Linked DNA regions of Homo sapiens: region 2 is linked to region 1. The links come from fine-mapping of genetic effects on gene expression. A gene starts in region 1. The other region holds a variant in brackets. All regions are shown on one strand. Distances are from middle to middle.

Region 1 (5,383 bases):
GGCAGGAGTGCAGTGGCACAATCTTGGCTCACTACAGCCTTGACTTCCTAGGCTCAAGCAATCCTCCCACCTCAGCCTCCCAAGTAGCTGGGACTAAAGGCACGCACCACCACACCCAGCTAATTTTAGTATTTTTAGTAGAGAGGGGGTTTCGCCATGTTGCCCAGGCTGGTCTCCAACTCCTGGGCTCAAGCAGTCTTCCTGCCTTGGCCTTCAAAAAGTGCTTGGATTGCAGGTATGAGCCACTGTGCCCAACTAAAATTTTAAAATATTTTCAATCTGTAATTAGTTGAATCTGAGAATGGGAAATTCACAGATATGGAGAACTAACTGTGTATCAGGACACAAACTAGCCAAAAGGAGGTTAAGCTCTACTGCTTCTGACTTCTGACCAAAAATTCTCTCAAACTTTTCATTCAGAGGGCCTCCCACTTGCCATGAAACAGAGGTGAGGGTGGAAGGACCACACAATCCAGTATAGTTCTGTAATCACAAGGATCTCACAACTAAAACAATTTTGCAAGTTCATCACTTAGTCTTTATATTACTATCAAAGCTGACTAAGCTTTTTCTGCCGTTAGACTTCTGCTGTTAGACATATTCTTAACGATCTCGAATATTTAATTGAAAACTTTAGTATCCACAATTCTATAACTTTGAGAATTATAAAGAACCTGTCTTTATAAAGGGTTTATTTACCTTCCAATTGTCTTATATACTCATCTACACCCATTTTATTCATTTAAATAGATTAAAATAATCCTTCGCAAAAAAAAAAAAAAAAAAAACAACTCTCATTTGTTTATGTACATCACAGGCATACCATTATATACGGGGATCTAGGATCTGTGCAAACTACAATCCACAGGCTAAATCTGGCCCACCATCATTTTCATAAATCAAGTTTCTTTGAAGCACAACTTCAGTCATTCATGTGCTCACATATTTGTTCAGTACCGTCTTTGGCTGCTTTTGAGCTACAATGGCAAAACTGAGTAGTTGCAACATAACCACTTGGCCTAAAAAGGCCTGAAATATTTACTGTCTACCCCTTTATAGACAGTTTGTTCATCCCTGTAGGTATATACCAGTTAATTCCCTGTGGACATGCGGTGGACACAGGCATTTTTTTGAAGTGTCATTTCAAGAGCATTATAAAAACTAGAAATAATTTTGCTTAAACACACTTTCAAAAGGCAAGGAGAATTGCAGATCAAATGTCTAAGAAAAAAGAAAAGTTTTTTTCCAAATGATTTAACAACCTGCTCATGGCTGTAAACTAACTATACCACAGTGAGGTCTTGCACAAATTGTTTAGCATTTTTTAAAGCATAATAAATATACAGACATCAGTGAAATTATTTTATTTCAGTAACCCCAGAACATCAAGGCTACCAAAGGCCAGTTGGTGCTAACTGCAGAAATCATGTTTTGCCCTTACTTGCTATTTCAGGAACTGATTAACACAAATAGTCTCAAGGTGTTCCTTCTAATTAGAAAATTCATAAGCTTTAGCCAGTGACTATCCACTTGGCTAATGGCGTTATCATTCCATGAGTCCTTGGTTCGAATCTTCGTACATACAGGAGGTTTCCCGCCAAATTTTTTCTCTATACTTGCTAAACAGAAATCCCAAACATAAAATACTCAAGGGCGAAAAGAAAGGGGCAAAGTGATATAGATTTGGATCTAGATCTAAATATAGATCTACAGATCCATCTATCTAAAATGTTTTGGAAGACAATCTGATGTGAAGAAATCTGGAGAATTTTCCCTAAGCGTCTGGGACAAAAATTAAAATCAACTGTATACAAAAAAAAAAAAAAGAAAAACTTAACGTATTCTTATGTAGTGAAATTCAGTAAGAGCCCAAAGTAAGGACCTACACATTCAGTAAAGCCTTTTTATACAGGAACTAAAAGGTTCACCAGGCCATTGTGTTGTTTTAATCACTCCGCCAGCCAACCAGGCAGTGAGAAACCCAGACTCAAGTGTGTTTTCTCTCCTCTCCGGGAAGCTTTATTTCCTTCGGGCAGAGTGGCCTCTGTACCGGTGGTTCAGAGGCATCCATCTTCCTCCCCAAATCCTATTACCAAAATGTCTTTTAAACACTCGGGTAAAAGCGTCTAAATGACTTTCCTACGGCAGGCCCATGTGCATAGATTTACGGGTGACCAGGTGGAACAAAAAGGAATAAAACCGCTTCTCAGAAGACAATTTTCCAACAAGGGACACCAAAAACTGGACAAAAACGTAAAGGCCCACTTAAAAGGCTTCTCCTCTTAGTTTAGGCTGCTCATTTACAAAGAGCAGGTCCACTGGTTCCTGGAGAACGACCTAGAGGAAGAGTCCCGACCCGGGGAAGAGCAGGCGCAGAGCCGACCCGGAGGACCGCCCAAGGGGCGGTCCCGGGAGCAGGGGCGGGAGGGCGAGCGCAGCAGGCGGAGGAGGCCGCGGGCCCCGTGCGCGCACTCACACACGTGGCGGGCAGGGCTGCGCGGCGTTCCGAGGAGCCTCGACCAGAAGCAGCAGGAAAAATGCGCGCAGAGTTGAGATGACCAGCGAGTAGCGGAAAGGGGAAGGGACGGTACGGGGAAAGGCATGCGATGGGAGCGGGCTGGCTTCTAGTTTTCCTTCCTTTCTCCTCCAATAACTCACCAAGGAAATCTCACTGAGAAGACGGGGGAAATGAAAGGAAATGGGGGAGCAGTGTCCACGAGCCGCTAAAGCCTCCACAGGAGACGGAGCACCGTACCTGCAGCTAGCTCCCCGGTCCCGCCCCCGCGCAGTGGACTCTGCGCCTGTGCCTGCGGCGGCCAGCGTGCCTCCGCTCCACGCCCTTCCCCGAGCGGCCTCGCGCAGGGCACGTGACTCTCCTTTCTCACTGTAGCCTATCCGAGCACTCCGATCTCCTCAGGCTCCTCCCCTCCCTCGTCTCCCTGGCGGCGCTGGCCTTGCGTCCTCGTGGTCTCAGCCGCTCGCTCCGCCCACACCGCGATTGGGGCCTGCTCACAAAAACCTTATTGGGTGACGCCTGCGCACCAGCTGCGCTTTGCCGTCTCTACTAGGATTTTTCTTTTTTCCCCAGATACACAGAAATAGAAAAGAGCACAGTTTTTAAGGGGACATCATTTTCACCCCGTTAACTTTCAAAGGCACGTAAAAACAGTGGCTTCCAAATGAGCTTCTCTAGCAGAAGGCGCTGCAGAAAGAGGGAAGAGGGGAGACCTAGTTTGCGGTGCTGCCTGCCACTTCCTCGTTGCCTAGTAACGGTTTCCACGGCAACCGCACAGTCAACGACGCTTAGCAATCCGGAGAGAAATAGGGTGTTTTCTTCCCGAGAGAGGACTGCTAAGAGGGGGTTAAAGGGGGACGATGTGAAGGAGAGAACCTGTGGTCCTTCAGAAGGCGAAGAAGAAAGAAAGGGGAAGCAGTGAAGAAAGGGACGGAGATACTGGGACAGGGAGAAAAAAGTTGTGGAGAGTAGCTTTTAAGGAGTCATTTGGTGGCCATGGATCCAACGTGCTCTTCTGAGTGCATTTATAACCTCATACCCAGTGACTTGAAGGAGCCTCCCCAGCCTCCTAGGTATGTGGATAAGCAAAGACTATCACTTGAAACAAGAATGGGGAATACTCAGTATTAATTAAGCATACATATACTGGAATTTTTAATAATAAATAAAATGTATTTTTGCCTCGATGAAGTAGCCTTGGAGGATAACTTGTTAGAGAAAAGGTCGAAATATCTAGGTATTCAGCATCTCACAGTTTTACAGAGAGGGCAGTCTGGCGCTGTGAGATGACCATTTTATTATATTACACTTAACCTCTTATTAATACGGTATGTGATTATTGTGTAATTTAATTATATGTGATATACAGCATAGTATGAAGTTTCATGTTGAAAAGAAAAAAATCACAATTCTATTATCTTGTTTAAGGATACTTGATGTTTGGTTTCAGGAGTTCGGTGTTGTATTTCTAACTGCACTACTCCCTCTCTAATGGGATAGGATAGGACTTTTCCCCCAAGATTTTTATGAAATATAAATTTACATTTGCTTTTGAGCCTCAGGTTTTTGATCAGTGAAACGAAATATCTACCACTATTAGGCAGTTTCTAAGGACTTTTTCAGATCTAATGGTTTAAATGGAAGGAAGAATTGGTGGATAGATAATGAACCAAAAAATATGTAATTGAGTTGAAATTTTACATAGGTCTTAGAACCTCTTAAATTCTCCAAATCTCAAAAACGTGCAAAGGAAGCACTTCAGTTACTCCCATCTGTAGGGACTTCTTAGAACTTACTTAAATCTGTGGGGAGCAAAGAAAGTAGTGGAGAAAATCTCATTTCTCCTAGGACTTGAAATGTTTCCTGTCTTTTACCATCATCCTTGTCCGTATGCAAGTCAAAACCACATTTGAAAAGGACTGGACTAAAAATCGGGCCTAGCAATTAATTGTCTTTGTGAACTTTAGAATAAAGTTTCATTTGTTTACTGATCTGTGAGATAAATGTACCAGATAATATCCAAGGCCCCTTTTAGATCTAATGGTCAATTATTTTTACTAGTATTAGGGTAATAGCTTCAACAAGTAGGCAGCTTCTTCAATTTTAAGTATCTGGTTTAAATTAGAGCAGTAACTGTATTACATCTCCATTAGCATATCAACATCTAGAGACTGGAAAGAGGAATGTAAAGTAAGTTATGGCACAGTTGCAGAATTTATTTTCAAATTTTCTATTGTTGCACCAACTTTTGGTTTCAAATTCCTGCATATTACATGAGATAAAACTCCTCTATAACAGATTGGTAGATTGTATTTCTATAGAATATTGAATTTGAGAGTTATTTTATTAGGTAGGTATTCTGTTCTTTGGCAAATTAAAAAGCTTTACTGCATCTAGACGATTTTTTTTTTCAAAAAAAATTTATAGGAACAGTCTTTATTCATTTGGCAAGCATTAATGGAGCCCCTATTATGTGTATAATATTGCACTAGTATATCTGTTCTTGGTGCTGTTGGAGTGATAGCACAGACTTCTTGGTTTTACTATGAAGAAATGAGTAGAAGAAAGATTTATGATTAGAGGAAATAGAGGCACCCAAATGTGATGCCAAAAGAATCATTTCTGTTAGGTTAAAGTCAATTTACACTGGCAAGATTCTGACAACTGCCTGGCTTTTGATCTCCCACGCCTCAGAGTTTACCGTCTTTTTGGGGAACTGAAATATGAACACTAAAATTTATCATTGAAAACCATAATGAGAGATGAAGATACTAAATGAGAACTTAGAAGATGAATGTATGTGACCAAAATCGGATGAAAGGCACTTTTCTGCAGTTGAACTATTGGCTGAGACTTAAGTTATGAAAG
Region 2 (5,383 bases), 52 kb before region 1:
CCAAGGAAAATTCTTAGGGTTAAATGTCAATAAACCCTGTCTCTAAATGGCCTCAAGTGAAGTCAAGATATAGCCAATGTTCTGTTCTTATGTCCAAGACAGAGAGGCAAATCAGATCATTATCAAATCAATTCAAATCTATCTTGCTTGGAAGTATCACATTTTAGCTGCCTATCTTGGTCTTCGTTCTACCTGGTGCTGAAAAGAGGCATCCATATTCTTAAAGCATAGCTTCCATTCTATCTCAGATCCTTACTCAACTGATACAGAGAAAAATCCATAAAGGAATGAAGAAAAAGTGTGTATAGGATATAAATACTTGGAGTTACCTGGTTATTTCCTAAGGTAATAGAAGCCTCTCTGTATTTCCAAAAAAGCCTCAGAAAAAAAATATATATTGCTAAATGTTTATTACAGTGCTGCCATTCTCTGATTTTTATAATAAAAATGGCAAGATCATTCTAGATGAGTAGATTAGATCTATTTTTTACCTACTCACAAAATAAAAAGTCTGTCTGCTTAGTGGAAAGGCCCCCTCTGTGTCCTGCACTGAGTGGAAAGGCTTGTTCCAGAGATAACATGGTTAGTTTCCTGGTTACATGGTCTGAAGACAGTTATGGCTTGCAAATATTCCCATTCAATCATCAATTGGCTACTGCAATTGGAAAAAGTAGTGTGGGCCTTGGATTTATTGGGGGTTTGACTATTCTCTGGAGGCTTTATAAAATTTTTTTAGCATTCAATGAATAACACTGTGAAGTTAGAGGTTTAGTTCAGCACAAGATTTACCTGACTTTTGGTCTTAAAGCCATTTTTTGTTTAAAGCCATTCTGGTTTTAAAACCAAAATGACCTCCTTGGCCATCCCTGTGTTTTCAGCAAGTAGACCTAAAATCCAACAATTTGATATGAATAATTTACAATTATCTCCATTTCCCAACAGCCAAGCAAAAGCCTCACAGATTATGTCATCTTATCAAAAAAACTGCCTATAAGTACATATATAAGTAAGGGAGCTGATCAAAAAGAGATACAGATCATTTGAAAACTAAAAAGCACATTTAGGAGAAGAGATAAGGATATTAAGACATAGAATCAACATGCAATAAAGCCCAAATGTTTATGGGAGACTGTTTCATAGCCCTTTATTTCTCGTATGGAATTGTCACGCAATGTTAGAGATAGACAATAACTCCTAGGCAAATCTCTTATGGAGTGAGTGAATAAAATTCACCACGCTACTAACCTCTGCTGAAATAACTTTGGAGAAATACCACTGAAGTATTCCTTTCCATTTTTTGATAATCACAGAAGTGCTTCTATATATTAAGCAAAATTCTATCTGTAATTTCCAAATCGAACTCAGTTTTCTCCTCTTCCCCCCAACTACCATTCAACCATTGGGTAGGATGGTAACTCTCAAAGACCCCTCCCAGGGGGTCTCTGCATAAAGCTGTATATCCCCATCTAATTTATGCATTTGTTCATTCATTCAATATTTCTTGAATATCTATTATATAGTAGGTACCGGGGACATAAAACAAACAAGGCATAATTCCTGCCCTCAAGGAGCTAACAGTGGAGATTAACACATAAAAAGAAATTAGCCATAGAGTATGGTACATGCTTCCATAGAGGTTGGTCAGGCTTTGTGACAACACAGAGTAGGGACTTAAGGAGGTGACTAGAGAAACCTCTAAGAAAGGAAGACACTTGAGATGAATTTTAATGATCAAGTGGAAGTTAACTAGGTGATTAATAATAAAAGCAAAAATGATCACATTTTTCCTGTGCAGGCACTGAGCTCCTTATAGACATAATCTCACCGCAGCCTCCACCTCCCAGGCTCAAGTGATCCTCCCACCTCAGCCTCCTGGGTAGCTGGGACCACAGGTGTGTGCCACCACAGCCAGGTAATTTTTCATTTTTTTGTAAAGACGGGATCTCCCTATGTTGCCTAGGCTGGTCTCAAACTCCTGGGCTCAAGCAATCCTCCTGCCTCGGCCTCTCAAAGTGCCGGGATTACAGGCCACTGTGCCTGGCCTTCTTGAAAGATCTTAAATTGTACAGGAGAAACTTGAGGATATTTATATGCTAAGGCTCTAGTTTATTTATCTTTGATTTTCTTTGAGACCTGGTGTTGCCAGTTTAACCATTCCATTGAACAGGGGACTAAACAGCAGTTAGTGACAGGTAGTCACTACTCACTAGGTTTCAGCATTTATTAGCTGGTGAAAGCAAGACTTAGTGAGCAGGCACAGAAACTCTCATTCACCTGTTGATGTCTAGTCCTGCTCTCTGATCCTGGACACTCTGGTAAGCACCTTGCACTGAAAATGCACATAAAAATGTACACTGCAATGGAATGCCACCATATTTTAAAGACAGGACAACAGAGTCCTACATACAGTATGAAAGGGGGGATGTAGGGGCCTCAGGAAGCATGGGGCTCTGTACCTGTAGTTTGTCTATGGGAGTATTGTCTTTGGCTTGCTGCATTCTTAAACCTTGTTCCAGCTGGGGTGGTGGGAAGCACACTCTTTCCAGTCAAAATCATCCCTTGAAAGCTACCATTCCACCAGGGAAATTTTTACTTCCACCATCTCTTATGCTAATGAACACACCGTTTGTGGGGTAGATTTCAATAACAATATTTGAAGTGCTAAGTAACCCCCTCCTAAGTGTGGATCCCTAATTAGGATGTTTCAAATGCTAACTAACAACTCTTGGAACGTGGATGTCTGATTAGGGTACTTCAAATACCTCCTCCTTCCTCCCTCCTCCTAGGGTGTCGATTGCACGAAAGTATTTTAAAGTAAATCAGCACAGAGATGATGTCATCCCTACATAGGACTTGCTAGTGAAAACAAGAGAAAAAAGTGTCCCTTTGTGTGCGTGAGATACTCGTCACAAGGACAAGTAGAGACAAGCTTGGAGTGATGTGGCCCCAGTCATTTCCTCTTCCCGAATGGGTATGCAGATGATGAGTTAGTAAAGCATGAGTCTCTGTATCCCTTTGTCTGAAAACCCACATGACACATGCTGGCTCTACAAACACCACCATTATCCCTCATGACTTTTCCATAGCTGAGCAGTGCTGACGTAGAGGAGTCAAGGCGCAGACAGGCTGCCACCCTGAAAAATAAGAGCACTACCCGAAACAAAGGCCCCGGGTAGCATCATGATTTTATGTGGCTGGGCTTGAGACAGATGGCACATTCACTGGGCTCTGATTGGGAAAGGGTACTTATT[C/T]TGGGCTAAAGAGAAGACCCTGCCACCCTGGGCAAGCTGATGGAGCCAGGATGCCTCCCCCTGAGTGAGATGTGGCCTGTCTGTATTTTGTTTAAGTGTGACACCTTCAACTCAACATCACACTTCTGGGATAGCACAGAATCACTGAGGACCCTTAGGTGTCCCATGAAAGCTCTGGACCCAATATGCAGAAAAAAGAAAAAACGAAGAGCACATACGCATATACATACTTTTGTACATAATTACATAATTTCAGGAGGATTATGAACTCCCTCATCCCTTTCTAAAATATATTTTTTTGGAAATAGAGTCTCGCTCTCTTGTCCAGGCTGGAGTGCAATGACACAATCTTGGCTCACTGCAACCTCCGCCTATGGGTTCAAGTGATTCTCCTGCCTTAACCTCCAGAATAGCTGGAACTACAGGCGCTCGCCACCATGCCCAGCTAATTTTTGTATTTTTGTTAGTAGAGACAGGGTTTTACCATGTTGGCCAGGGTGGTCTTGAACTCCCGACCTCAAGTGATCTGCTTGCTTCAGCCTCCCAAAGTGCTGGGATTACAGGCATGAGCCACCATGCCTGGAGCTTTCTAAAATATTATGTGCCTTTCAGTGCAATCTAAAATTATTTTTTTTTAGGGCAAAATATTGCAATAAAATAAATAAATTTTTCATAATGTCAATTCATTTCAAATTGGATTTTAGCTTAAAATAAAGAATTTTCTGGTCTTGGGAATGTCCAACAGTGGCCTAAATGGTCCTGATTTCCTTTGTTACTGAACCAACCTTGGGTCCACGCACTGGGCTCTGCAAAGCCAATACTCACATCAGGATTGCAGCAAGAGAAAGTGGGAGATTTATTGCAGGATGCCCAGGAAGGAGAATTGACAGCATGTGGTTAAGATGTGAATTCCCTGACAGTTTACAGGTAAGGGACTTCAAAGGTGGGGAGCCAGAGGTGACAAGCAAAGCCATAAATCAATACATGAAGGCGACATATTGGTTTGACCTAAAAAGGGGGAACATCTCAAAGCAGGTATGCTGGGGTAGATTAGAAGATATTTTATTTTACTTTGAGACGAGTTTCACTCTTTTTGCCCAGACTGGAGTACAATGATGCGATCTTGGCTCACTGCAACCTCTGCCTCCTGGGTTCAAGTGAGTCTCCTACCTCAGCCTCCCAAGTAGCTGGGATAACAGAAGCACACCACCATGCCTGGCCACTTTTGTATTTTTAGTAGAAACGGGGTTTCACCATGTTGGCCAGGCTGGTCTCGAACTCCTGACCTCAGGTGATCCACCACCTCGGTCTCCCAAAGTGCTGGGATTACAGGCATGAGCCACCACGCCCGGCCAGATTAGAAGATTTTCTGATTTGAGATTGGTTAAGGAGCTGAAGCTTTCTCTAAAAATTTGGGGCCAGCAGAAAAGAATGTTAGCTCTGGCTCGTGGGTGTGACCTCCTCCAGGACCCCAGGAAGAAATTTAGATAAAGAATGGCGGTCAGAGTTCAGTCCTCAGCTTCCCCTTCTCTGAGGTCTACATTCTAGCAGATGGTATTTTCCATTCGGTGGCGTCTGGGTTTCTGAAAAACAGCTCAGGGACGCATGTTAAGATGTCGTCTTTAGTTTCTATAGTTTCTATAGTCACAAAACATTTTGTGACTCTAACTTCCTTGGTGATTGTTTTAAGCTATTACCTTTTTAAATGTTTTGTATTTTTTTTCATGATGTCTTCTGACAGAGGGTTGATATAATCTTTTTTTAAAAATTTTGAGTTCCCAGGTACATGTGCAGGATGTTCAGGTTTACATACTCAGCAAATCTTCTCGATTATAAAGTTCCTCATCTACTTCTCAAGGCTAGCTAGGTTCCTGGAACTTCCCTTGAATGAACTCTAAATTTTTCTTTCTTTCCATGCTTGGGAAGATTGTTGGGGTGACTGGCAGGCCCCTATGGGGGGTCCCTGCTCTGTCTAACCTTGTTCCTGGTAATGTTTGGCTGAGGTTGTTGCTGCCTGGCAAGGATGTTAAGGAAGAGATTCCTATACAGGGTGGGGACTGAAGAAGATGCCCTGCACATGGGCCTTTCAACTCTAAGAATCTATGAGCTTCCACTTTCAGGCACCCTTACAA

The links.
Region 2: its variant is fine-mapped to the expression of THNSL1 in subcutaneous fat (GTEx, PIP 0.94).

What each region holds. Positions count from the first base shown.
Region 1 is chr10:25,014,065-25,019,447 of GRCh38, reverse strand. THNSL1 (threonine synthase like 1) reads right to left here and starts at 2,836. Exons shown (of 3, transcript NM_024838.5): 1 at 2,756-2,836. It overlaps ENKUR (enkurin, TRPC channel interacting protein), which reads left to right and starts at 3,290. Exons shown (of 6, transcript NM_145010.4): 1 at 3,290-3,588. The coding sequence starts at 3,512. RefSeq lists enhancers at 2,115-2,194, 2,794-3,088, 2,399-3,161 and silencers at 2,445-2,524, 2,705-2,904, 3,235-3,284.
Region 2 is chr10:25,065,962-25,071,344 of GRCh38, reverse strand. No RefSeq gene overlaps it. Among named protein-coding and RNA genes, the nearest start is that of LINC01516, 44 kb to the left of the region's middle. RefSeq lists enhancers at 2,474-3,032, 2,216-3,415, 3,033-3,592. The variant C/T (reference allele first, on the strand shown) is at 3,252.